Homo sapiens: one gene and its partners. The protein of the gene in region 1 interacts with the protein of each later gene in a pairwise test. Each region holds a gene or a part of one and is shown on either strand. Other genes may lie near its edges.

Region 1 (3,500 bases):
GGTCAAGGTGCTATGTGAATTCAAACCACAGGGGACATAGGCCTGGGAGGGCAGCCCCATCCTCAGCCCCCCAGACACTTCTGTAGTACCTTGGAGACTTTTGGCTGCAAAGGAATCTCCACATAGGCCTGGAGTGCTTCGAGCCCAGTCCTCATCCAAGTGGGGAACATGTGGATGAGGCTGAGCTGATTCTTACTGGGTGGGGGTGGCGCTGGGGGAGATGAGGAGAAGGGAAAGAGAAGTGCAGAAAGTCCCCGCTGGGGTTTGTACACGCCTGTCCACAGTGAGGAACGGAGTTTGTACGTACCCATCCGCGGTGGGGAGCGGGTTTGTATGTGTCCATCCACGGCGAGGAGCGGGGCTGGGCTACTGAGGGGTGCTACTGGCCCCCATGTCTGCTCCTCTTTGACTGTATGGGGCTCACTGACCCTGGCGACATCAACTGGGGTGTATTCTGGATAACCACGGGACTGTACTTTCCTCATGCCCATCCTCAGCCATCCAAAGAGACAAGGCTGTCCTTGGTTACTCCATTCCAACTCCAAATCTGATCATCAGAACACTTCCTGGACTTGGGAATATAAACAGTTGAATCCAGAAAAAGAAATAATGAGCAAGAGAAAGAAAGAGAGAGAAAGAGAAAGGGAGAGAGAGAGAGAAAGAGAAAGGGAGAGAGAGAGAGAAAAGAAAGAGAGAGAGAGAAAGAGAGAGAAAGAAAGAGAGAAAGAGAAAGAAAGAAAGAGAAAAAAGAAAGAAAGAAAGAAGAAAGAAAGAAAGAAAAAGAAGGAAGGAAGGAGAGGGAGGGAGGGAAGAAGAAATGAAGGAAAGAGAGAGAGAGAAAGAAAGGAAGGGCAGGGCAGGGGACTACTGACAGTGTGGTTAATTTGTTTTGCCAAATAAAGACCAAAAAGATCTGCTGGTCACTACCATTGCATAAAGGAAAGGACATTTTAATATCAAAGCAAGTAGGAGGGCTAGAATATCAGAAGAAATAGCAGCTCTTCTCATGACAATACCAAATGGCATAAATCCTTTCTCAGAATGATGAATTACTTAACTTCCACCTACCTCAGTTTCCTCATCTGGCAAACAGGTCAGCATTGCTCAGAGGGTTACTGTGAGAATCACTGAGTTATTATTTGTAAAGTGCTTAGGATAGTGCCTGGAATGTAGGTCTGATATAAGTGTTTGTTAAATAAAAAAATTAAACCCATATTTAAAAAGTTACTCAGGCCAGGTGCAGTGGCTCACGCCTGTAATCCCAACCCTTTGGGAGGCTGAGGAGGGCAGATCACCTGAGGTCAGGAGTTCAAGACCAGCCTGGCCAACATGGTGAAACCCCGTCTCTACCAAAAATAGAAAAATTAGCTGGGCATGGTGGCATGCACCTGTAATCCCAGCTACTCAGGAAGCTGAGGCATGAGAATCACTTGAACCCAGGAGGCAGAGGTTGCAGTGAGCCACACGCCACTGTACTCACGCCTGGGTGACAGAGCAAGACTCTGTCTCAAGAAAAAAAAGTTTTAAAAAGTTAATCAGGGCAAGCGTGCCGGGGATTGGGATTGAGATCCAGCACAGGGCCCTGGGGGGACTAAAGATGCATTTTTGCAGAGGAAAATGCCTGCCCTGTTCTCTTTGCCTGCTTCCTGTGTTTTTGCACTCCAGTCACCCCATGTGACCGCTGGTCGGGGGCCCTTCCTGGGCTGGGGCTCTCCTCTAGGCCAAAACTCACCCCTCCTCCTCCCCCGCAGATCTTCGGGGGCCTGGTGTGGATCCTGGTGGCCTCCTCCCTGGTGCCCTGGCCCCTGGTCCAGGGCTGGGTGATGTTCGTGTCTGTGTTCTGCTTCGTGGCCACCACCACCTTGATCATCCTGTACATAATTGGAGCCCACGGTGGAGAGACTTCCTGGGTCACCTTGGTGAGTCCAGCCCAGGGTGGCTGCTGGTTGTAGGGGGGCGCAGGAAGTACTGGTCCCTGGCCCAGTAGGATGGGCTTTTCCAGTGCCAGGTGAGACTTCTCCGTAGATGTCACCCCACCATGTTCCAAGGCTGAGCCTGCCCAGGGCTCCTGGCAGCAGAATCAGGAGAGGCAGGGGCAGAGGCAAGGTCGCCGCTGCCAACCCTCACTGGACCTGTTCTGTGTTCTCCTGCATGACTGCCTTTCCATGGATAACCAGCTGCCCAGCCCCCACACCACCTGTACCCGCCAGGTGCCTGCCTGCCCCTCCCATCACCTGCAAGGGCTGTTTTCACCTCAAGGCAGCAGGGCCCCAGAGGCCGACCAAGGTGTTGGGCTCCAGAAATTGGCCCTGGCTCTGAGGGTCAGGCCATGCTTACTGTCCAGCTCCTCAGCCACTGCCTTCCAAGCAGGGCTGCCAGAGAGCACTGGGAAACAGAAGCGGCCTTTGGTCATTATTCTGTATAAATTCTGCTTTGAGACCCATGAAAAGGTAACTTTTACATGTAGGACACTTGCCTGTTACCTGCTGTAGGGGTGGTGGGGCCATTTGGCCAAGGCTGTCACTCTCAAAAGCTCTGCTACTTAGACTTTTGAAATCACTTCCAAATCACAACTACACAAAACCCTGTTTTAGTACCTTTTTGCTTTCATTTATTACTTTATTTTGAGTTGGGGGTCTCATTCTGTCACCCAGGCTGGAGTGCAGTGGCGCAATCTCATCTCACTGCAGCCTCAACCTCCCAGGCTCAAGTGATCGTCCTGCCACAGCCTCCTGAGTAGCTGGGACTACAGGCATGTGCCACCACACCCAGCTAAGATGTATTGTTTTGTGTAGAAATGGGGATCTAACTATGTTTCCCAGGCTGGTCTCAAGTCCTGGCCTCAAGAGATCCTCCTGCACCAATCTCCCAAAGCTCTAGGATTACAGTCATGAGCCACCACGCCCAGCCCTTTTTTGCTTTTAAATATACCAGGGGCCAAAAATAAGCAATGAAACAAAACAAAACAAAACAAAACAAAACGAAAGAAACAGCATGGTCCTCCCTCACCCTGCACTGGTCAGCGAGGCCACACCCAACCTGGACTGTGGCCATGCACGACACTTCTCAGATCCAGGACCAGCTTTTCCCTGGGACACCCCAAGCTGCTGGCCCTTCCTCCACCTCTCCCTTGACCCTTCCTCAGGGGAGACCAGTGTCCCATCCCCAGCAAAGTGCTCACTCTGGCCCCACAGCAGTGAAGTGAGACTCAGCACAGCAGGGCAGGCATGGGACCTCCGTGACAAGGTTGGGAGGGGTGGGATTCAAAGGAAGTGGGGGGAGAGGCAAGGGGCGGGGGTGGAGGGGACCTCAGCTCTGCATCTGGGCCCCGTCTCTCTCTCCCCATCCCTCTGACACCCCGTCTGCCCCATAGGACGCAGCCTACCACTGCACCGCTGCCCTCTTTTACCTCAGCGCCTCAGTCCTGGAGGCCCTGGCCACCATCACGATGCAAGACGGCTTCACCTACAGGCACTACCATGAAAACATTGCTGCCGTGG
Region 2 (3,500 bases), on another chromosome or scaffold:
AATAATTTCTGAACAAGGGGTTCTGTATTTTCATTTTGCACTGGGTTCTGCAAATTATCTAGCAAGTCCTGAGAGCAGGCAAAGGTAACCTACAGGGCCTGGTACTCTTCAGAGCAAATGCACAATCTGGCCACTGTGTGTATGTCTAAAGGCTAAGCCACACCTGCCATGCACTACTTTAGCTGCAAGGCCTTTGCTTACACAAGGATTTCTGCAATCTGAAATCTCATACCTGACCCAATTAATTCTAAATGTCTTTATATCAAACTATCACAGGCTTTTCTGGAAGACTCACCCAATCATTCTCACCACTGTGAGTGTATGCTTTGGGGCCTGGGCCAGGAGGAGATTTGTTTTCAAAGGTCATCCATGGGCCGAGGGCAGTGGCTCACGCCTACAATCCCAGCACTTTGGGAGTCCAAGGCGGGTGGATCATGAGGTCAGGAGTTCGAGACCAGCCTGACCAACATGGTGAAACCTGGTCTCTACTAAAAATACAAAAATTAGCCAGACATGGTAGCAGGCGCCTGTAATCCCAGCTACTCAGGAGGCTGAGGCAGGAGAATCACTTGAACCTGGGAGGCGGAGGTTGCAGTGAGCTGAGATCGCACCACCGCGCTCCGGCCTGGGTGACAAAGTGAGACTCTGACTCAAAAAAAAAAAAAAATAGTCATCCATTAAAATATAAATGCCTGTGGGGTAACTTCTTGGCCAAGATTAACAATGAGGGAGGCTCAGTGCCCACAGTGGGCTGGGGTCCCAGGAAGAGGACCCAGGTTGTAAGAACAGGCTTCCGTGGGGCTCTGGGAAGGTAAGAGCCAGAAGGCAGCAAGATAAATAAAGAACCACCCCCCCAACCACTTTTTCTAGATGGCAGAAGGCAAGGGTGCAGGGCCACAGGAGGGAAGGTAAGATTGTAGCTGGAGAAGAGGATTTCAAGCGAAGGGAGTGGGAGAGCCTAGCCTTATGGGTAGGTGAGACAATATTCCAGGGACAGGCCAGAGACACCTGTCTCCATCTCAGGAGATCCCAAAGAGAGCCTGCACTCAGCAGGCAGGCCCAGCAGAACAGACATCTGAACTATGACTCTCTGTTAAACCGTTTTGGACTCTTTAAAGCTCCTAATAGGACCTTTAAAAGTTACATCAGGCCAGGTACGGTGGTGGCTCATGCCTGTAATCCCAGCACTTTGGGATGCCGAGGAGGGCAGATCATTTGAAGTCGGGAGTTTGAGACCAGCCTAGACGGAGTGAAACCCCGTCTCTACTAAAAATACAAAAATTAGCTGGGTGTGGTGGCGTGCACCTGTAATCCTACTGTGCTCCAGCCTGGGTGACAGAGCAAGACTCTGTCTCAAAAAAATAAAATAAAATAAAATAAAAAAAGTTAAATCAATGAAGCCAGCGGGGCTGGGTGCAGTGGCTCACACCTGAAGTTCCAGCTACTCGGAAGGCTGAGGCGGGAGGATCACTTGAGCTCAGGAGGTCAAGGCCGCAGGGAGCCGTGATTGTGCCACTGCACTCCAGCCTGGCCAACAGAGTGAAAAATAATTTTTAATGAAATAAATAAGCCATTGGTTCTCAAACCTGCCTGCACATCAGAATCACCGGGTGGGGGAGAGGAGCTCGAAAATTCCCATGCATGGACCCCACCCCAGTCAGCGAATCAGAATCTCTGGAGGTAGCCAGGGCATCCGGATCTTTTTAAAGCTCTCCAAGGGCTGCGGCTACAGCAGGAGGGTGGAGAGCCACTGATCCAGGTGACTTCTCCACGATGAACAGACCTTCTCTATTGTCCTCAATGTCCCTCCATCCCAGCTTTGACGCCACGGCCCGCCATGATGTTCACACCTTTGTGTGCACGCATATTTCCCTTGGCTGTCTGCCTTCATCATTTTCCCCTAGGAAAATCCCCACCAGGTCCAGTCCAGCCCTTTGTCCACTTGGGACCCTCGCAGTGCAGTTGATGGTGCTGGGAAAGGCTGTCCGGCGTGATAGTCTATGGTACCCGCAGGACCACTTGCCCCACCTGCACCCGGCACTGACTAGCACTTGACCCCTTGACTTGGTCCAGGCCTGCGGTCATTCTCCTGGATGACCATGGTCTCCTCCTCTGTGCTCAAGCCTCCCGCACCTCCTCCCCCATCTCCTGTCTCAAGACATCATGTTGCTTCTTATTTCCCTGAGAAACTTGGAGCAAACTCAGAACATGCGTTATTGCCCACTGACATCTCCCCCAGCCTCCTGCTCCCGCCTCCCCTCCCGTTCTGGAGTGAGTTCTCTGCATGCTGGTCAGAGCTGGTCTCTCCATGTGCACACAGGATCCCTACTGCCCCTACAGATGTTTCCCTCCTCGCTGAACCATTTCCTCAGGCATGCAAACATGCTTCCATGCCTCTCATCTTCAAAACAACAGCAAAACAAGGGTCCTCTCTTGCCTACACATCCCACTGGCAGAGGTTTCTAACTCTTTTGGTTTAGTTTTTTGTTATCGGTGTTGTTCTGGGTGGCGGGATGGGGATTGCCTGGGATTCCTTTGGCAATCTGGCGAAGCTGATGTATTCTTCTCAGCACAATACTTTTAAATGTGTAATATAACACATAACATGCAGGATTATAAAGGAAGTGAATTATAGTAAAACATAGTTATCAAAATATTTTAGTGCAATTCTGTTCCTAGTAATGGACGACCTTCCTTATTAATGCATTACATCATGAGGTCTAGCAAGCATCTTATAAGTATCATTTGAAATTGTTAGAGTGATAAATGTCCTTTGCAGGTATCTGCAACGCCTGTAATGCGATGCAAAATATCATGGTCTCTATTGCTGATTAAGGCACAGGCACTGGTCATATTGCTGTAGGTGGCTGCCTACATTCAGGATTGAAGGAAATGCTAATTGTCAGTGAGAGGTAGATGAAATAGAAGATGTCACTTTTTTTCCTGGCTGAGTTGACAGATATCCTGAGGTCTATGGGCCCTGGAACCCATCCTAAAACTGTTGCCTCATTTCCTGATTCCCCTGGAGGGTCCAAGTTCCTGAAAGAATTCTCTGGGCTCATTCCCTCCTGTCCCTCTGTCCCTATTCTCTCTTGAACCCACTCCAATCAACTCCGCCGAAACTGAGCTTATCAAGGTCTCCAATTTCCTTCATGTTGCTAATCCAGTGACCACTTCTCAGTGCTCAGATGACTTGATTTATCAGATTACTTGACTTGACAGAGTAGATTGCTCTCTCCAACATGGAGCTCTGTCCTCCCTCACCAGTCTCCTCTGGGTTGACCGTTCACTATCGCCCATTCCTACAGCCCGTGGCTGGCTCCTCTTCCTACCTCTATCCTCATCCCTCCCCTGATGTTGGAGGGTTCCTAGAATCAGCCCTGGAGCCCCTGCTCCTCTCTATCTAACGTTCCCTCCTAAGAGACTCCATCCCATATTTTAATCCCATCTCCATGCGGTGGTGACACAAACAGACTTCTCCAGTTCAGTCCCTCCCTGAA
Region 3 (4,047 bases), on another chromosome or scaffold:
CTATTTTTGCATACAAATGTGACATGATGTACACAAAGTTCTGTGATTTTTGTTCCTTTTATTCAATAACTATTACAGACCTCTCTATATCAGCATCTGTGATCTGTCTCCACCTTTTAAAACAGATTCCTAGTATTCTGTTGAATTTATATAACCATTTTGTACTTAGTCTGTCACATTTTCATGAATATTTGCTGTTTCCAATATTTTGTTAACACCAACAATGCTTCGATGAACATCATTGCATATAGTAATTTGTGCCATGTGTAAGGGGTACATTCATGTATCTTGCAAGGAGAATTCTTGCTCTAAGGGCATATTTATTTTTTATGTTGATGTATATTGCCTACTTGTTTTCCAAATAAGCTGTACAGTTTTCCCAACCGTATATGAGAGTATTTGTTTCCCAGTATTTATCCCTCTTCCCTATATTATCAATTTTTTGAACTTGCCAATCTGATTATAATTCTAAGGTATGTTTATCTAATTATGACTGAGGTTAAGCATCTTAACAATCATTTGTTACATTCTTTCCACATAACCATTTAGCTCTTCATTATACCCTGAAAGATATCCATCTTCTCTCCACTAGTTTCAAATGGAAGCTTAAATAAATTTGTTTATTTGAGTCTAAACTCTCCATTTCTAAACTCTCTACTCTTTTACATTTACCTTATTATTTACACATATCAGTACTAATTTTTGTAAAATGCATAGATTAAGACATCTTAATGTACAATAGGTTAGTGCCTTTTCTTTTTCTCAGAATTTCCCTAGATATTCTTGCTTTATTTTTCAGTGGTAGTGATGGAGTTGTTTCATAAAATAAACATTGAAATATACCTTGTTTAAAAGAGGGGTATTATCACAATAAAACAAGGAAAGCTTTATGCCTAAGTTTGGGTTAGACCTGGAACTGAAAATGGTGTGTAGGAGAACAAAGAGTACCAACAAAGGGAAGAAAATTGAATAAATGTTCCAAATATGAAATACTATTAGAAACCCAGAAGTTCCCTGGAATAAAACATGCACTTGAATGTGGAAAGTTATTAAGTAGCCAGCTAGCTCTGTAGGTCAGCATTTATAACCCCTACTTTTAAAGGCCTTGACAAACAGTGCTAAAGTTCTCACCTTAAACTTAAATTCCTTGGGCTCTTAGTACCTGTAAACATGTACCCAACATTCCTTCCCCTAGCATGCACTTTACGAGTCACAAGGAGCCATTATTAATGCATGTCCTGGTAGGAAGCATAACTTATAGAGAAGCTAGTAAGTTCTGAGAAAGAAGGAAATAAACACAGGCACCAAACCACTATCCTAAGTTGACTGTCCTTTAAATATGTCAAGATCCAGACTTTTCAGTGTCACCTCAGCGATCTCAACGATAGGGATCTTGTGTTTGCCGCTATTCCAGGTAACTATCTCTCTTTCTGGGTTAAGGTTTTCAGAGGTACTCTGAGGTACTCTGAGGACTTGATTTGCTATAGATTTATATGTGAGCAACTTAACTGCTTCTACATTTAAAAGATTTCCTTCAAGCTTTACTAGCATCTTATGATTTCTTGTATTCACTGGTCAGAGGGACAAAACAAAATGTCCAAGGCATTAGTCTTATTTCTCCTTCAATTAGTTCTATTGCTACTGAAATAACGTGATTGCAAATTTAACCTTTGTTTAACTTTGCTATGCTGTAATTTTTTAAATTCAAAATGCTATTGACACAGAACAAAATGCTATGGCTAGATTAATTTAAGACATGTTTACTATTGCCTACAACCATACTTGATGCTTGACAGTTTTTCAATGCTGACTGATGTAGACAGAACCATTTTAGGATTTATTTCAGTTCCTCTGCTCCAGCATCCCCTTCTGACTAACACGTGCATCTCTAGATCTGTGTGACTTCAATGCAAGGTATCTGAAAGATTTAGATCTAAAGTAAATTATAGCTTTCCTTACCTCTTCATAATAACTGGAAGTTTGACAGCTAATGTGTTGGCAGTGAGGTGCTAATAATTTAATACTGTGTACTATTGCTAGGGTACAACACACAGAAAAAACACGGAAGTGACTTGAAAGTGAAATACTGGTTTTATTTGTTTATCTGTTAAGCTGGATCCCAAACGATTTCATCTACTCATAAATAAACTTTCTTTATGGACAAAATGTGAATGTTCATTTTCCTTTCACTTAGTATGCAAATCTATTTGCAGCATTCTAGCAAAAAAGAATGCAACTCATTTTCTGTGCTTATAAATTGTTCATTACCATGCTCTCTGATGGCCAATTCATGGCTCCATCTGCAACTCCACAAATCTCTTTGCCCAGATAAACTTGGTGGAGTAAATACAAGGTGCTGAAGAAGATGCTTTTGGGATTAAGGGGGGAAAAGACACATCTCACACAGAACTCCCAAGTCTATCACTTTAAATTTTGTAACTTCTTACTTGTACTTTTATTTGCGTGTTATAGTCCAGGAAAATAAATACTTCAACTGACTTCATCAACTAAGTGTTCAGAGCTACACATAAATGCCGTTTAAAGACTTTCTCCTTGTACAAGGAAGGAGTCCTGGTTCAAAGGGTCAAGCAAGCAAATAGATAATAAGATCTTTAGAAAGAAGTGCCTTTTTCCTTGTGATTTAGTATATGAGATGTTGTAACCTATGACACTCAGTGCAGATAACTAAGAGCATTATTTTAGAATGCTTATAGTATTGGACTTTTCAAACAAAGCAACAAAGATGATTACTTTTTTTCTCTTCTCTGATAAAGAGAAGACTGTAAATCTCAACTGGAATGTCATGTGATCTTAAATGGACCTTACCCTTAGAGCAGGTTAAAGTCGCCCTTTCATGAATATATATTTAATGCCCATTAATGCTAATAGGCTTGACTTCTGTTTCCATGTATGTACTTGGAACTTGTTTTTTTTTGCGTGAAAATAATACTCACTAATAATGAACCTCTGACCTCTAGCTACAACATGAAAACAAAAAATGCAAAGTGCACAAAAGCTCTTTAGAGCAAGCAAAATCTGCATATAGAAAAAACAAAAATTGTCGTAAAATCCATTTATATTGGTATGTAGAAATGGAATCTGGTTCACAATATATATCTTCTGCCACTGCTGAGCTTAAGAATCCACCCAGAGATTTTTTCAATTAAAATTCTGTGTACCAACAATAAACTCTGCTATAGAGCTTTTAATTAAAAAAGCAAACGAAATGATATAAACCCACATTGTCTCTAGGCGCTGCTTGTATTAAAGGATTAGACTGATGAGATGTTTGGATTTTATTGTTCTAAACATGTGTTTCAGTTGGTGCTCTCGGACCTACCATGCGAAGAAGATGAAATGTAAGTAAACAGCGAAAAACTCCATGTTTTTATTTCGCATTTAAAAAATTCAAAGTATAAAAAAGGCTCAAGCCATTAGAAAAAGCCCAGTTGAGTTTCAAATGATCATTATAATCAGAAGAAAAGTAAATGGTTTGTAAATGCAGATGGCTCCATTTTTTTTTCTGAAAACAGGAAAGATAATTTTCATTACGATCAGCTTTGTTAAATAAATAAGAGGCCTAGTTGATTTCTAGATATTTTTGCACACTGAATTTATCTTCCTTAAGGTTTCAAGGGTACTTTAAGTTCATAAAAGAATCATGATGTCATCTATGGCTTCATCCACACTCAAAAATCACAGTGACCAAGGGAGGCAGTTTTCTGTATAACTCAGTTTAAAATACAAGCAAACTGACCAAAATTCTAACCTGTACTGTGTGTCTATTTCAAAGTGCTTGTGATATGAATTATGTGAACAATTGACTCAATTTTTTCACTTTTTGTGCGATAGACTTAATGGTTCTCAGAATTCTATTCAGGAGATGAAGAGAAGGTGCCATTAATAATGATACTGATAATTAATATCTGTAATTCATTGTGATTTAGTATCAGAAAAGCACTTCCACCCAGCACTATCTTCTCCTGCTTGCAGCCCTTACTGTTAGCAGCTGTTTTCAGTCTTCATTGCCTGTTACACTCAAAGCCA
Region 4 (3,500 bases), about 120 Mb from region 1:
GATATCCCTGCAAGCCAGAACCAGGGAAGACCTTCTTAGGGGTTGTCAGATTGAAGTTTGGAACTTCACAGTCCTTCAGCTATAGGACCAGGTGACTTAGAATGGCTTCATAGGAGTCCACATGGTTTTCTAGCTCATTGGCTGTTACGTCAGAGGGCTAGGGTAGAAGAGTAATCACAATAGTTGTTTTTGCTCATTTAATAATGATAATAGGCAGCATCTAGAATTAACGGAGCCCTTGCTATGTATCAGGCACTTACACTAGATTTTACATACTTTATCAAATCTTGCAACAGCCCTCTAAAGCAGGGGTCCCCAATCCCTGGGCCATGGACCAGTGTCAGTCTATGGCCTGTTGGGAACCGAGCCGCATAGCAGGAGGCAAGCGAACATTACCACCTGAGCTCCGCCTCCTGTTAGATCAGCCATTGCAATAGATTCTCACAGAAGTGCGAACCCTATCGTGACCTGCACATGTGAGGGATCTAGGTTGTGAGCTCCTTATGAGAATCTAATGCCTGATGATCTGAGGGGGAACAGTTTCATCCTCAAACCACCCCCTCTCCCAGCCGTGGAAAAATTGTCTTCCACAAAACCGGTCCCTTGTGCCAAAAAGGTTGGGAACCTCTGCTCTAAAGTATGTGTAATCATCCCCATCTCACAGGTAGCGGAATGGAGGGAAGCCAAGGAACTTACTCAGGGTCACTTTCTTAGGGTCTCTTTTATTAATTTGTTTTCCTTCTAGGGGGGCTTGACCAAACTGCATTTATTTATTTATTTATTTATTTATTTATTTTGAGAGGGAGTCTGGCTCTGTTGCCCAAGTGGCAGTACAGTGGCACGGTCTCGTCTCACTGCAACTGCTGCCTCCCAGGTTTAAGAGATTCTCCTGCCTCAGCCTCCCGAGTAGCTGGGAGTACAGGCGCTCGCCACCCTGCCTGGCTAATTTTTGTATTTTTGGCAGAACAGGGTTTGACCATGTTGGCCAGTCTGGTCTTGAACTCCTGATCTCAAGTGATCCACCCACCTCGGCCTCCCAAAGTGCTGGGATTACAGGTGTGAACCACCGCGCCCGGCCCCGAACTGCATTTCTTAAGCAACAGTTTATTTGTTCTGGATGTCTAATGCCAACTGAGTTTACATAATTCCAGCCTAAAGCAATCTTTTAGCTTATCTGTGCAGCTTTAAAACAGATCCATGCACTAGTTCTACCAGGATTTTTTAAATATGGAAAAAAGGAAATAGCTCTGATACCCTGGCACTGCTTTCAAGACGCCTGTGTCTCAGGCCTCAGGGACCCCAGTTAGAAACTGCTGTCCTGAGGTTCAGAAACTATACCCATGTCCCCACCCCCAGCTCTGCTCCTCTGTCCAGTACCTAGAGACATCAGGCCAGCTTGGCAAGGGACAGAGAACCAGGAGAAGGGCGCAGTGTGGGTGGGCCCCTGCCCTTGGTAGTGGGCTTCCCAAGTACCTGTCTGGGGCTAGGAAAAGCAGGGGACGCTGGAGGGCTGACCTGTCTTGGTGTCAGTGTTGGAAAAGGGTAAGTCCCTCAGGTAGCCCCTGTCTAGTCCCCACCTGCTCCACTGAGCCCCCCAGAATCCAGAGATCCTCCCACACTCCTTTCGACAGTCTTTGCCTCTTCCCTGTACCCCTTGCTCCCAGCTCGGGGTGGTCCCCGGGCCACATGTCCTGTCTGTCCATGCAGCAGCCACACCTGCCAATGATCACTTTTGTGACTATGCAACTGGAGTGAGAATACTAGCTGCAGATCACAAAAATGACACTGGCAGCTGTGAGGGAGAGAGAGAAAGAGGGAAGAAGGGAGAGGGAAGGACAGAGAGAGGAAAGACAGGCAGCGGGAGGGAGAGGGAGAGACGGACAGAGCAGCAGAGAGAAACTGGCAGACAGGGGAAGGAGGTGGAGAAAAACAGGGGAGAGGGCAGAGAGAAAGGAAGAGAAGCGCGGAGAGGGAGAAATGGAGAGAGAGGGAAAGGGTGAGGCAGAGACAGAGTGAGAGAGAGATGGGGAGAGAGAAGAGGAAGAAAGAGGAAAGGAAAAAGAATGAAAGACACAGAAAAAAGAGGCGAAGAGACGGAGAGGGATGAAGGAGGGACGGAGAGGGATGAAGGAGGGGAGACGGGCAGGCGGGAGTGAGAGACGGAGGGGGCAGCAAGGCAGCGCAGTGCAGGGCCTGGAGACAGCGGGGCAGGAGGGAACTGGAAGGAGAAAGGAAGCAGGGGTCCTGGAGAGGGAGGGGAGACAGAAAGCAGAGGGCCCTCTGGAGGAAGCAGGTGGAGGAGAAGGAGCCAGTCCCGGGAGCGTGAGAGGGAGGGAGCAGAGCAGCAGCGGCCGGCGCGGAGCTGGCCCACGCGGGTGGTGGAGGCTCGGGGAAGGGCACAGCCGGAGCCTCAGGCCTGCTTTTAGGGGTGGGAGCGTGGGGTCTGGAGCGGGCGGCCAGAAGTCAGAGGCCGAGGCTCCAGGCCCGACCCGGGGCTCCAGGCCGAGCGGCGGGCGGACCCCGGCTCCGCCCCCGCCCATGCGGTCCCTCCAGGCGGGGGCGCCCGCGCTCACCTGCGGAAGTCCAGCAGGGGCCGCGTGGAGGCCGGTGTGCCCTCTGCCGGCCAGCTGAGGAAGTGGAACTGCGTGAGCGTGCGCGTCTCCTGGGTCTGCACGTTCTTCAGGTAGAAGCTCCGCACCAGAAAGTCCTCGCACCAGATGTGCTCCGACACCAGGTTCACCTGCCCGGCAGGGGCCCAGGCCTGAGCGCCGCGGGCTGCCCCAGTCCCCGCGTTGCGCGCGCTCTCCTCGCGACCTTCTCGGTCTCTCCAACCACCGCCCGGCCTCCCAGGCCGGTTCAAATTCTAAGTTCCAGCGGTCCCAGGAACCCTGGCTGCCTGTCACTTATCTACTGCTCAGGACCACTAGTAGCTTTTCCACCCAGACACAGCTATTGTGAGCCTCTCGAGGTCGGAGTTTCTCCTCCCTCTTCCTCGCAGGGTCTACCAGAGTATCGGTGCTACACGTGCCATAAACTTGGATGAAATTCTGTAGTATTCTTACTGGATTTTTTTCGTTAACCACCAGCAGGACCAATGAAAGGCTTTTTAAAAAAACCGTCATGTGCTTATTTGGTGGGGAAAAAATTACTATTCAGGCTCATCTGGTGATGAGAAGCTTCTGCTGTGTTCTTAAGGTTTTTTTGTCTTAGTGGGGACTCACGTTCTCCCATTTGTCTGAAATATTTCTCTTTCCCCTGCTTGGCCTCTGCCCAGTTCCCCCTCCTTCTCCACCCCTCCACCTAGTCTCTCTCCTAATGAAAAAGTTTGTTTCTCTTTTACATTAGTAACGTATGTAACGGGTGGTATGTCTTTCTTTGCTTTGGCCACCAGGAAACTCAGAGCTAAATTAGGTTCAATTAACGTAGGTCTTAATCTCAGTCTTTGGGTATCCTTATCTTCCCTGTCTAATATACACTTAGCTGTTAGCTTCTTACCTCGG
Region 5 (4,171 bases), on another chromosome or scaffold:
AATGGAAGCTCGGCGAGGTAAATGCCCAGGATCACACATTTGCCTGGCAGCAGAGCTGGAATCGGGCCTTTTGTTCAGCATTCAATGAGTCTTGCTTTGTGCTACTTTTCTTTTCTATATCCCTTCCTAATCCTGCCTCAAGACTCAGCTCAAACATCACTTCCCCTAGGAAGAGAGAACCAACCTGTCTTTCCTTTTGCCTTTGCTGGATTCTTTACATTCTTCTATCAGAACATCTGTAGTATTTTATTGCATCTATTTGCTTACATCTTTGATTTCCCGATAGACTGAAAACTCCTTAGAGTAGGGACGAATCCTATTCTTCAAATGCCCAGTGCCAGGTTTAGAAGTTGGTGACTTATGTTAAGATGGAACACCTGAAATGTTTATTTAGGATTTAAATCTCACCATTTTCAAAAGAATTGGAGGCAGTTAATAATAAGTACATGAACAGAAATAAGATTGAGGATAAAAATCCTCATGTGATGTCTATCTGGACTCTAGTAAAGTCAATGCGATAAATATGGTGCCTGTGTGTATTTGACAACACACTGTTTACTTTCTGTTGTTGCAAAAATTTCCTTTAAAACTCATCTACAGAATGAAGAGCAATATAGAGTTGGGAGAAACCAAATTCATAAAAAAAAAAAAAAAGTATACACCTAAAGAAGATGTGGGGAAAAAAAGTATCAGACACTTACTGAGCAATTTAAACTTAGTCTAAAATATTAAAAAAACAATTTCCCAGTAATACCTAAAACTACTGGTACTTGTGAAAAATGTGCTACCAGAACCCTAGCTAAGAAAGTGAGCTCAAAAAGTCATGGACTAAAAATTTTTTTTAGGGTTAAAACTAAAAAAGTGTGTTTCACTTATCTTGAAATTTTAATTAACAAGAACAAACAATTCCCTGAGTTTTCAGATAAGATACTACCATAGCACTTTATTGACATTACTGAATTCCAAATATACTTCATAGAGCATTCCTAAGGAAATGACTTGATATGACAATTAAAAAAAATTAAAAAGCAGCAGCAAATAGAGTAAAAGGGCCTTAGAGGTCAGTCAAATCTTATCCTTTTGCAGTTAAAACCAAGGCCCCAAAATATTCACTCATGCATAGTCACAGATTTTAAAACAATTCTTTTAGATGTGTTTCATATTTTATCATCCATTTATACTAATATTTGACCAAACAGTAATATGTGACCAGGAAAAAAAGTTTTATGTGTCACATCACAGGACCACTGTTCTGCACACAGCTTCTATTTTAGGTGTGGTAACTGAAGCATGGTTCATTTTTGGATCTCTGACTTAATAGCCTTGAGCCTTAGCTTCCCCTTCAGGAATGTATCTGCTGTTGCTTCAATTTCATACTGAGGCTTAATCAATGTTTACAAAATAGAGACCTAGCTAGAAAATCATGGCCACAAAAACTGACTTTAAGAGTACAGCTAATAAAATCTCCATATTACTGGTCTTGCTATCTACTCAAAAGGTGACTCCAAAAAAAACTAAGACAACAACCTAGTGAGCCATGACGTGCTTTGAAAGAAAATGTCTTCTTTAGAGTGAAGTCACAATGTAAATATATGCTATTCCAATATTTTTTTAATGAGCTGCAACACGCAAATGGAAAAATAAAGAACTAGCAGAGAAAACTGAGTTGGGTGCTGTTCCAGGGCTCCAAGAGCCTGCAAATGACTTGCAAATGACTCATGAGGCTGCTAGTAAAGGGATACAAGATCACATGGCCTTAAAACCAGGCCCCACGGCTGTTTGACACCCAGTAGTTGCTATCTTTGGCATCTCCAAATGAGGGCATCTAGGAACAACCAGCAAGGCTGGAGAAGCCAGTGTTACTAGCAATTCTTCATCACACTAACTTGACCCTCCTTTCAACTCCAGTGTGCAAATTTGCTTATTCACCAAGATTGGCTAAAGCAGCATCCCTTTAACAGAACCCTTTCTTATACCTTGACTGGAAACATGTAAGTAATTTCATTTTCCTCTGGTTTAGATCACTGCTAACAGTTGATTTTTTGTCATTTAAGAATTCTTTGACTATTTACAAATAAATATTCCAACAAATAAAGATAATTGTCTATGAAAAATTGCCTGGTGCTTTATTTTTTAACCAGGCAGGTGCTTGGTATCAAACCACAGAAATAACTCACACCAGTATTGCTTGCCACAAAATCAGAATTGTTATAATAGGGCATAATTCAAAGCTAATAAGCAGTGTTATTGAATGAGTCATGGTAATTTGTTCTTTAATTTCATTTCCCAGTCAATGCCTCTTCACATTCAGGAAGTAATTTTTAAAATCAAGTCTAAATCATTTCTATCAAAAATGAAAAACACAGAGCACATGCAACAAAAACTTCCCAGACTCGAGAATCATAATTCAGTCTCAGTAGAGTAATAGCATGCAAATTACTTACAAAAATGTGAGCTTTGACTGCTAGGTTACCAGAAAAACAAAACAAAACAAAACAAACAAACAAAAACTAATTGTTCAGAAGCAACTACAACAAAACTTTTCTACAAATTCTGTAGTTCTCTCTTTGCCTTTCTTCAGCATACGGGTGCTCCTATGAGACCCATAAGCCCCAGGATGAAACTGTTGGTCTATATTGTGTCAATTTAGCCAAGCAGTGTAAGATTCCAAATCCTGACTTTTTTCATAATGTCTAAGGTTTTTAGTAAATATATTACTAAAACTATGCTTTAAAAAGAAAACAACAAAAAAACACCATGCCCTGATTTAGTTGGTAACTGATGAGGTTTTTATTGGACTGAAGTTACCGTCCTTATCTGGCTGAAGCAACTGTTAGCTGACACCACCTTTCCAGCACTCCTGCCATGGTATGCTTCCATATATAAATATCCTGTAGCAGGCGGAAGCTGCCACTATGATGACTGACTTGCAAACACTCCAGACAAACCAGAGAACTGCAATAAACACGGACAGAATATGATTATGACATCATAACAAGGATGATGGCAGGTCAGACGCCTAGTGCTTCCAGTAGCTACAAAAAGCGATTGTGAGTGGGCGATTTCATGGATACAGACCCACCACAGGTGAAGGAAGCACTCCATCTCATCGGCCGCCTTTCCTTTACAAAGGCTTTGTTCTGTGAGTGTCTGCACATCCTCCTTTCTCAGGAATAACAGCCTTCCATATATGTGGTTCCCTCACATACATGCCAAGGAGCTTCTGCCCTCTGCTGTACATAAAAGATGCTACAGTGATGAGGAGACCAACTATCTCAGCAGGATACTAACAGTGAGGTTGTGAACAACTGTGCAATCCTTTATCATCCTCACTTCCATTGCCATAGCTTGATGGACATTATTCATCTTTGAAACATTTTTCATGTCAGTGAGAAAATAGGTGTTCCACAAAATTTTCTTTGAGACAGAGTCTTGCTGTGTTGCCCAGGCTGGAGCGCAGTGGCATGATCCCAGCCTACTGAGACCTTCCTGCTTCCAGATTCTCCTGCCTCAGCCTCCCAAGTAGCTGGGATTACAGGTATGTGCCACCATAGCTGGCTAATTTCTTTATTTTTAGTAGAGATGGGGTTTCACCATGTTGGTCAGGCTAGTCTTGAACTCCTGACCTCAAGTGATCCACCCACCTCGGCCTCCCAAAGTGCTGGGATTACAAACTTGAGCCACCATGCCCGGCCCAAAATTTTCTTTACACCTATATCCCATACGGACCTCACTCTGCTTTGGGGGAAGAGGAATGTCATTTTTTTTTTCCCTTCACACTACCTAGTCTAAGAGGGAATGTCATTTTTTCAAGCCTCATCTGTACCCAAAGACTAATTCTTGGAGGAAGACAATATAACTAGTAACTTTTCTCAGAAACATACGTTAAAAAGCTATGTCAAATTTCTCTGAATAATGAAAATGTTCATGTTAGCTATTATGCTGTTTTTAAGAAATCTCCCAACTACCTGATCTGCCTTGAGCCATGTATCCTTTGAAGATATAATAGAAGTAACTGCCTCATTTTGGGGCGTTTACTACTTTTCCTCTCCTGTAACTTCTAACTTTGTGGAATATTAACTTCCCCTGAAGGAGGAAGGAAATGGAGACTAAGGAATTTAATTGTTGAGGGATACACTGATTATAAGTGGCAGAGATGAGATGTAAACCC
Region 6 (3,374 bases), on another chromosome or scaffold:
CCTAAGTGGTAAAAGAATCTCAGCTGAGTATGGGGGTGCATACCTGTAGTCCCAGCTACTTGGAAGGCTGAGGTGGAAGGATTGCTTGAGCCCAGGAGGCCAAGGCTGCAATGAGCCCAGATTGCACCACTGCACTCCAGCCTCGGTGAAAGAGAGAGACCCTGTCTAAAAAAAAAAAAAAATAAAGGAATCTCAAAGACCAGGCAGCATGCATTAAGAAATTCTAGAACAGACACTCCTAAAATCACAAAATGAAATGTGCAAGGCGCTTGTGACAGCGTCAGCAACACCGAAGGCTAGACTGCCAGTATGCTGAGTGGCGGCCATGCCCTTGATGGTTCACTTAATACATGTGTACTGTGTGCTAGACTCCAGTCCAGGTGCTAACGGTGGAAAGTTGAATCTGACAAGAGCCCATGACGGGCTCCCTGTCTAGTGGAAGGGAGGAAAAGAGCCATGATTAAGAAAAAGTTGCCACTAAGGTGTGATGAGTGAATTAATGCATACTGTCTAGTTACTATAAACTGAGACCTCATCCTCTACAGTGGGGTCAACCAGGTGAGTGGGTCTTGGCATGGGGCTGATAGAATCTGCAAGACTTGCAAAGCTGCCCTTAGGCAGAGTTGGGGTGTGATGCCCCAGCTTTTGTGTGTATCAGCATCACAGAGAGAAAGACATTCTTAAAAATCCAGATGGGGTTGGGAGTGGTGGCTCACACCTGTAATTTCAGCACTTTGGGAGGCCGGGGTGGTTGGATCGCCTGAGGTCAGGAGTTCGAGACCAGCCTGGCCAACATGGTGAAACCCCGTCTCTACTAAAAATACAAAAAAATCAGCTGAGTGTGGTGGTGCACACCTGTAATCCCAGCTACTGAGATTTACTGAGGCAGGAGAATTGCTTGAACCAAGGAGGCAGAGGTTGCAGTGAGCTGAGATCGAGATACTGCACTTCAGCCTGGGCAACAGAGCAAGACTCCCTCTCAAAAAAAAAAAAAAAATTCCAGATGGCTGGGCTCCATCTCCAGAGTTCCTGATTCAGTGGGTCTGGGATGGGGCCCAAGAATTTGTAGTTCCAGCAGGCTCTAGATGATGCTAATGCTGCTTGTCCAGAGACCACACTTGGAGAACCACCATGCTGGAAGGTTCTGATCGACGCAAGGTGCCATGAAGAAAGGACCCCCCTACAGAAGCCCCCACAACTGCCATCAGGACCAGGCTCTGCTGCAAGGCCAAGAGTGCCACTCACTTCCTGTATTCTCTAAAGACCTTTTCCTGCTGCTTTTAAAATTTATTTAGTTAGTGAGTTAGTAGTTTAGAGTTATTTATCTATCTCTATTTATTTTTCACATAGAGTGAAATGGATGAGAATCAAATCCAGATGGCTGGAGATGATGTGGATTTACCTGAAGATCTCCGGAAAATGGTAGATGAAGATCAAGAAGAGGAAGAAGATAAAGATTCTATTCTTGGGCAGATACAGAATCTCCAGAACATGGACTTGGATACCATAAAAGAAAAAGCCCAGGCCACCTTCACTGAAATCAAGCAGACAGCGGAGCAGAAGTGTTCCGTGATGTGAGGGGTGGGAGGGGTGGAGGGAGGGAACCAGCCATCCTTGGAAAAGACCACTCTCTTGTGGGACGTTTCAAGCAGTACATGTTTTAATGTAGTGAACACAGTTAGGAAAACCACGATGATCCATTGACAGACAATAATTTGGTTGTTCTAAATATTCCTGGCAGAGCATTTAGCTAACACCTTGCAGCGGGAACCTTACTTTCCTTTTAGTTATAAATGAGATAAACTGGAAAATTTCAGTTGTAAATGATGATGCAGAACACATATCTGCTTAAAGACCTTGAGATGAGCCAGGAAGAAACAAAAGCAAGGGGCATTTCCTCTCCAACTTTCTTCCTTGGAGGCCAAGTTCTCACCCTGTCCAACTATTCGCAGGACACCAGGTCCCTTCAGAGAGAAATGTGGAGAGTCAAGGTGTCTACTGGGAGCCGGGTTTCCCACAGGGAGCTGAGTCTACAGACTCCAGGGCAATCAAAGGTCACCACCCCCACCCCTCACCTCTAGGATCCTTGAATTTGTCAATGATACTCATCAAGTATGCTTGGATCCTTTGGTCCTTGGATGCTTCTCAGCCAAGTGGCGGTAGCACAGATGTGGTGAACAATGACGAATTGAGGCAGGGAATAGACCTCACTAGCCCTTTGCAATGGAGATCATCGTTCTAGTGGCCATGTGAAGAATGGAACCAAGGGAGGCACAATTAGAGGCAGAGGGAAACCAGGCAGACGGCTGCTCTTTTTGAGTTGAGCTTAACTCTCCTTGTCTGAACTTGGTGATAGCAATGGGAACAAAGTGGGTAGACTAACAGAGAGCATTAAGAAGTTAAATCAATCTCTCTCTGTCTCCTCCCAACCTCTCTCTCTCTTTCATCCCCTTCTCTCCCTATCTCTCTTTTTTTTTTCTTCTCCTGTCCCTTCCCATCCCACCCCTTTAGACTACCTTCCAGTAAATCACACTGTCATTTGGTGCCACAAGCTTTCAGGGTAGACACTGATTTTTCCCCCCTAATATCTGCTCTCTTTCAAAAGGAATAATTCAAAAGACTTAGGACAATTACCACTGAAACACTTCGAGCTATTTAGCTAAAGCCCACCAAACCAAAACAAAATACTGATTTTTTTTTTTTTTTTTGGTGACTCTGTTCATACAGTGAATAAAGATCTATCAAAGGAAAAGGAAACTGAGACCGAAAACTTAGGGTCTAAGTTGTTCTAAACCCAGGGTTCTCAAATGTGTTGTACAAAAAGTTTCATGTAATAAAATTAAGCAAATAAAACAAATGAATAGAGGTCCAAAACCTATGGTCCTTGGCAAAGTTTAATCTGTCTTGGAAATTCCTGGGAGAACATTGGTGCAATGATTGAGGCTGATTAGCCTTCTAGTCCACAAACCCAGATGCCATGGGCACATTTTAAAACTGTGCTTGTCTTTTATCAGAAATGGCATGTGAGTTGTGATTTGTTTTATAGCAGAAACTTTAAAAAACTCACTTTTTTAAAAACTACAATATAATAGATAACATTTATTTTCAGTTTAATGCCTGACTCTGCCCTGTAGTTGGTGAGGTGGGTAGTATGGATGGGTGAGAGGTGCTGTATGTGGCCTGATATCTGTACACTTTGTATGACATAAAATACTACAGCTGCCAAATTGTTCCACACTCTAGCCTCAGGATGACAAAGAAGATGTGCTTTCTTGTAAAAGATGCAGCCAGTTCTGCTAAGGAAATCACTAAATTGGCACTTCCTCTTGACTGCCAACATTACTCCAATGCAATTTGGTCGTTGTCTCAATGAA
Region 7 (3,500 bases), on another chromosome or scaffold:
GGTAAATTAACTGAATGTGCAATATGATCTCAAATATTATAAGAAACACACACAGAAAAAAATGGAAGGAATATGCCGATATATTAATGCCTCTGGATGAGTTTATGAATGATTTTTTCTTTTTTATATCCCTGTACTTGACATATTTTCTACAATAAGCATGTTTTATTTTACTATATTTTGTTTTATTTTGAGATGGGGGTCTCCCTATGTTTCTCAGGCTGACCTTGAACTCTTGGGCTCAAGCAATCCTCCAATATCAGCCTCCTGAGTAGCTGGGACTACAGGTGCACCCCACTGCACCCAGCTGCGTGTGTTATTTTGATATCGATGGAAAAAATAAATAAAATGTTTAAGCCAAGGAAAACAAAAACTAGGTTGAAAAAGAAGGCCAAAAGGGCACACAAGTCCAGAGTGAAAGACAGACACCCCAGCAGTCACCCTCAGAGCAGAGGGAGAATATTGAAAGTATTACCACTGATCTGATCTGGCACTGACTATAAACTTGCAGATTGGCTCTCTGGCTCTCCTTCCATCATCAGTTGGCCAGAATATATTGTCGCTAATGCAAGACAAAAAGAGATGATGAATCACAGAGACCTAGAAGTTTCCAAAACCACAGAAGAAAAATGTAAAATGCTAAAAACATAAGGCCAGGCGCGGTGGCTCAAGCCTGTAATCCCAGCATTTTGGGAGGCCGAGGCAGGTGTCATGGTGTGCGGCTGTAGTCCAAGCTACTCAGGAGGCTGAGGCAAGAGAATTGCTTGAAACTGGGAGGTAGCGATTGCAGTGAGCCAAGATTGCGCTACTGTACCGAAGCCTGGATGACAGAGCGAGACTCTGTCTCAAAAATAAATAAATAAATAAATAAATAAATAAAACATGAACTGCTGTGGAAGAACCAGAGAGCCCTAAGGCCTCCTGTAAATGACTACAGCAGGAGAGTTTCCCTGGTCAGCATGCAGCTTTCGAAAATTGAGTTTGGCTTGATGCCTTCATCACAAATTTGGTCCCCTGTAGCCTTGACTATGAAGCTTATCATAAAATAATTGGGTTTCACTGGGGCCCGAACAAAAGCATCTTGGGAATTTAACAAGATTAAAGGTTGCTTTGTTGCTGTGGGTATGATTTTTTTTTCTTTTTTCTTTTTTTTTTTTTTTGAGACGGAGTCTGACTCTGTCACCCAGGCTGGAGTGCAGTGGCACGATCTCGGCTCACTGCAACCTCCGCCTCCTGGGTTCAAGCAATTCTCCTGCCTCAGCCTCCTGAGTAACTGGGATTACAGGTGCGCGCCACCACGCCAGGCTAATTTTTGTATTTTTAGTAGAGACAGGGTTTCTCCATGTTGGTCAGGCTGGCTGCTCTCAAACTCCTGACCTTGCCATCCAGCCGCCTCAGCCTCCCAAAGTGCTGGGATTACAGGCATGAGCTACCACACGTGGCCATATGTAAATTTTAAACATGTAAACCAATACTGTATATCTTTTATAGATATTTACATCTGTAATGATAATATGAAAACGTACCTAGGAATGATAAACACCAAATTCAAGATATTGGTAATCTCTAAGGAGGGAGAAGACTAAGATTTTGGAGTACATAAAGGGGTCTTGATTATATAGATAGTATTTCAGTTCTTAACACGTTCTCTTCTGGTCCCAAGGCCAAGGAATTCTCAATTGAAATCTCAGTTAGAACGTGAAGGATGCTTCTTGGGACTGGGAAGAGATTTTCCGTAGGCCAAATTTAACCTCCCACTAGAGATAGTTGATAATTCTACCACATTTCATAGTGAAGCATCAGGAAGACAGGACTGAAAAGGCAAGAAGGAATGATGCAAATTGCATAGTCCAAAAGATAAGCTGGACCTAGGTTTGCCAGTTTGTCTAAGTAACTGAGAATTCATTCTGAGATCAAAAAATCAAAATAATGTTCACAGCAGCATTGTTTATCACTGAAAGCAAACAACCTAAATGTCCATCAACAGGAGAATGAATAAATATATTGGAATGTATTCATCATATAGAATATTTTATGCATATAAAAATGAATTAAAACATATGAAGTAGAACTAGCCAGATAAATAAATCCTAACATATTATATTGAGGGGAAAAAAGCAAGTTGCTGGAGAATGTGTACCATATATATATATATAAATTTTCTTTTTTTTTTTTTTTTTTTTTCGCGACCGAGTTTCACTCTTGTTGCCCAGGCTGGAGTGCAATGGCAAGATCTCGGCTCACTGCAACCTCTGCCTCCCGGGTTCAAGGGATTCTCCCGCCTCAGCCTCCTGAGTAGCTGGGAGAGTAGCGTTGGCCCAGCTAGTTTTTGTATTTTTAGTAGAGACAGGGTTTCTCCATGTTGGTCAGGCTGGCTGCTCTCAAACTCCTGACCTTGTCATCCACCCGCCTCAGCCTCCCAAAGTGCTGGGATTACAGGCCTGAGTTACCGCACCTGGCCATATGTAAATTTTAAACATGTAAACCAATACTATATATCTTTTATAGATACTTACATCTGTAATAATAATATGAAAACATACCTAGGAATGATAAACACCAAACTCAAGATATTGGTAATCTCTATGGAGGGAGAAGACTAAGATTTTGGAGTACATAAAGGGGTCTTGATTATATAGATTGTATCTCACTTCTTAACACGTGAGGCAATATGGCACAATTTTAGGATTTTGTAGAGCTAAGCGGTGAGTCCAAGATTGTAATGTTATAGTCCCTGTACTTTCTATTTGAAATATTTCATAATATAAAACAAAGTATATTTGAGGCCAGGTGCAGCAGCTCATGCCTGTAATCCCCACACTTTGGAAGGCTGAGACAAGAAGATCACTTGCATCCAGGAGTTTGAGACTAGCCTAGGCAACAAAGTGAGACCCGTGTCTCTACAAAAAAATTAAAAATTAGCTGGGTGTGGTAGTGCACACCTGTAGTCCCAGCTACTTGAGAGGCTGAGGCAGGAGGATCGCTTGAGCCCAGGAGGTGGAGGCTGCAGTGAGTGGTGATCTTGCTACTGCACTCCATCCTGGGTGACAGAGTGAGACCCTGTCTCAAAAAAATAGAAGGTATATTTGATCAAAGTTTTATATTCACAGTAAGCAATAAGAACCCTAGGGACAGAGAAGGGTGGATGTTCCACCTAAACACTGTGCTTTCATTCCATCAACAATGAAACATCCAGGAAAGGAAACAACAAGTGACTCTAGAAATTCACTAGTTAGACAGAATCTCCTTGGGAATGATTTAAAGAGGGAAAATGTAAGAAAACCTGGCAAGACTAAGAAGAGTCCTCAAGTGCAAAAAAAGTATAGTTGACAGTTACCAGAGACAGATCATCCTTACCAGCCTGGAGGAATATTGCAGAGGAAAGAGCTTAGGATCTTGAATACTCTCTTATCTCCTGTATTTACCACCATTTCCTCTCTTGCTGAACATTCCTAGAAAATGGAGAGGAGTTTGTCACAACTGCTCTTTGATGATAGCCA

What was found.
Region 2: the proteins of MAL (region 1) and CLDN14 interact in binary tests that used the Homo sapiens proteins (3 or more experiments, as listed by UniProt).
Region 3: the proteins of MAL (region 1) and TMEM207 interact in binary tests that used the Homo sapiens proteins (3 or more experiments, as listed by UniProt).
Region 4: the proteins of MAL (region 1) and PTPRN interact in binary tests that used the Homo sapiens proteins (3 or more experiments, as listed by UniProt).
Region 5: the proteins of MAL (region 1) and LSMEM1 interact in binary tests that used the Homo sapiens proteins (3 or more experiments, as listed by UniProt).
Region 6: the proteins of MAL (region 1) and CPLX4 interact in binary tests that used the Homo sapiens proteins (3 or more experiments, as listed by UniProt).
Region 7: the proteins of MAL (region 1) and BTK interact in binary tests that used the Homo sapiens proteins (3 or more experiments, as listed by UniProt).

Annotation. Positions count from the first base shown.
Region 1 is NC_000002.12:95,046,208-95,049,707, forward strand, and holds part of MAL (myelin and lymphocyte protein), read left to right. Parts: intron 1-307; exon of another isoform or gene 308-571; intron 572-1,068; exon of another isoform or gene 1,069-1,751; coding exon 1,752-1,919; intron 1,920-3,373; coding exon 3,374-3,499; intron 3,500-3,500. UniProt on the Homo sapiens protein: May be involved in vesicular trafficking from the Golgi apparatus to the cell membrane. Plays a role in the maintenance of the myelin sheath, and in axon-glia and glia-glia interactions.
Region 2 is NC_000021.9:36,473,623-36,477,122, reverse strand, and holds part of CLDN14 (claudin-14), read left to right. Parts: intron 1-3,500.
Region 3 is NC_000003.12:190,447,102-190,451,148, reverse strand, and holds the start of TMEM207 (transmembrane protein 207 precursor), read left to right. Parts: upstream 1-1,247; 5' UTR 1,248-1,339; coding exon 1,340-1,414; intron 1,415-3,321; coding exon 3,322-3,359; intron 3,360-4,047.
Region 4 is NC_000002.12:219,292,402-219,295,901, forward strand, and holds part of PTPRN (receptor-type tyrosine-protein phosphatase-like N isoform 1 precursor), read right to left. Parts: intron 2,741-3,500; coding exon 2,574-2,740; intron 1,800-2,573; exon of another isoform or gene 1,710-1,799; intron 1-1,709. UniProt on the Homo sapiens protein: Plays a role in vesicle-mediated secretory processes. Required for normal accumulation of secretory vesicles in hippocampus, pituitary and pancreatic islets.
Region 5 is NC_000007.14:112,479,620-112,483,790, reverse strand, and holds the start of LSMEM1 (leucine-rich single-pass membrane protein 1), read right to left. Parts: upstream 2,801-4,171; 5' UTR 2,445-2,800; exon of another isoform or gene 1-2,444.
Region 6 is NC_000018.10:59,294,902-59,298,275, reverse strand, and holds the end of CPLX4 (complexin-4), read left to right. Parts: intron 1-1,350; coding exon 1,351-1,578; 3' UTR 1,579-2,874; downstream 2,875-3,374.
Region 7 is NC_000023.11:101,379,692-101,383,191, reverse strand, and holds part of BTK (tyrosine-protein kinase BTK), read left to right. Parts: intron 1-3,500. UniProt on the Homo sapiens protein: Non-receptor tyrosine kinase indispensable for B lymphocyte development, differentiation and signaling. Binding of antigen to the B-cell antigen receptor (BCR) triggers signaling that ultimately leads to B-cell activation.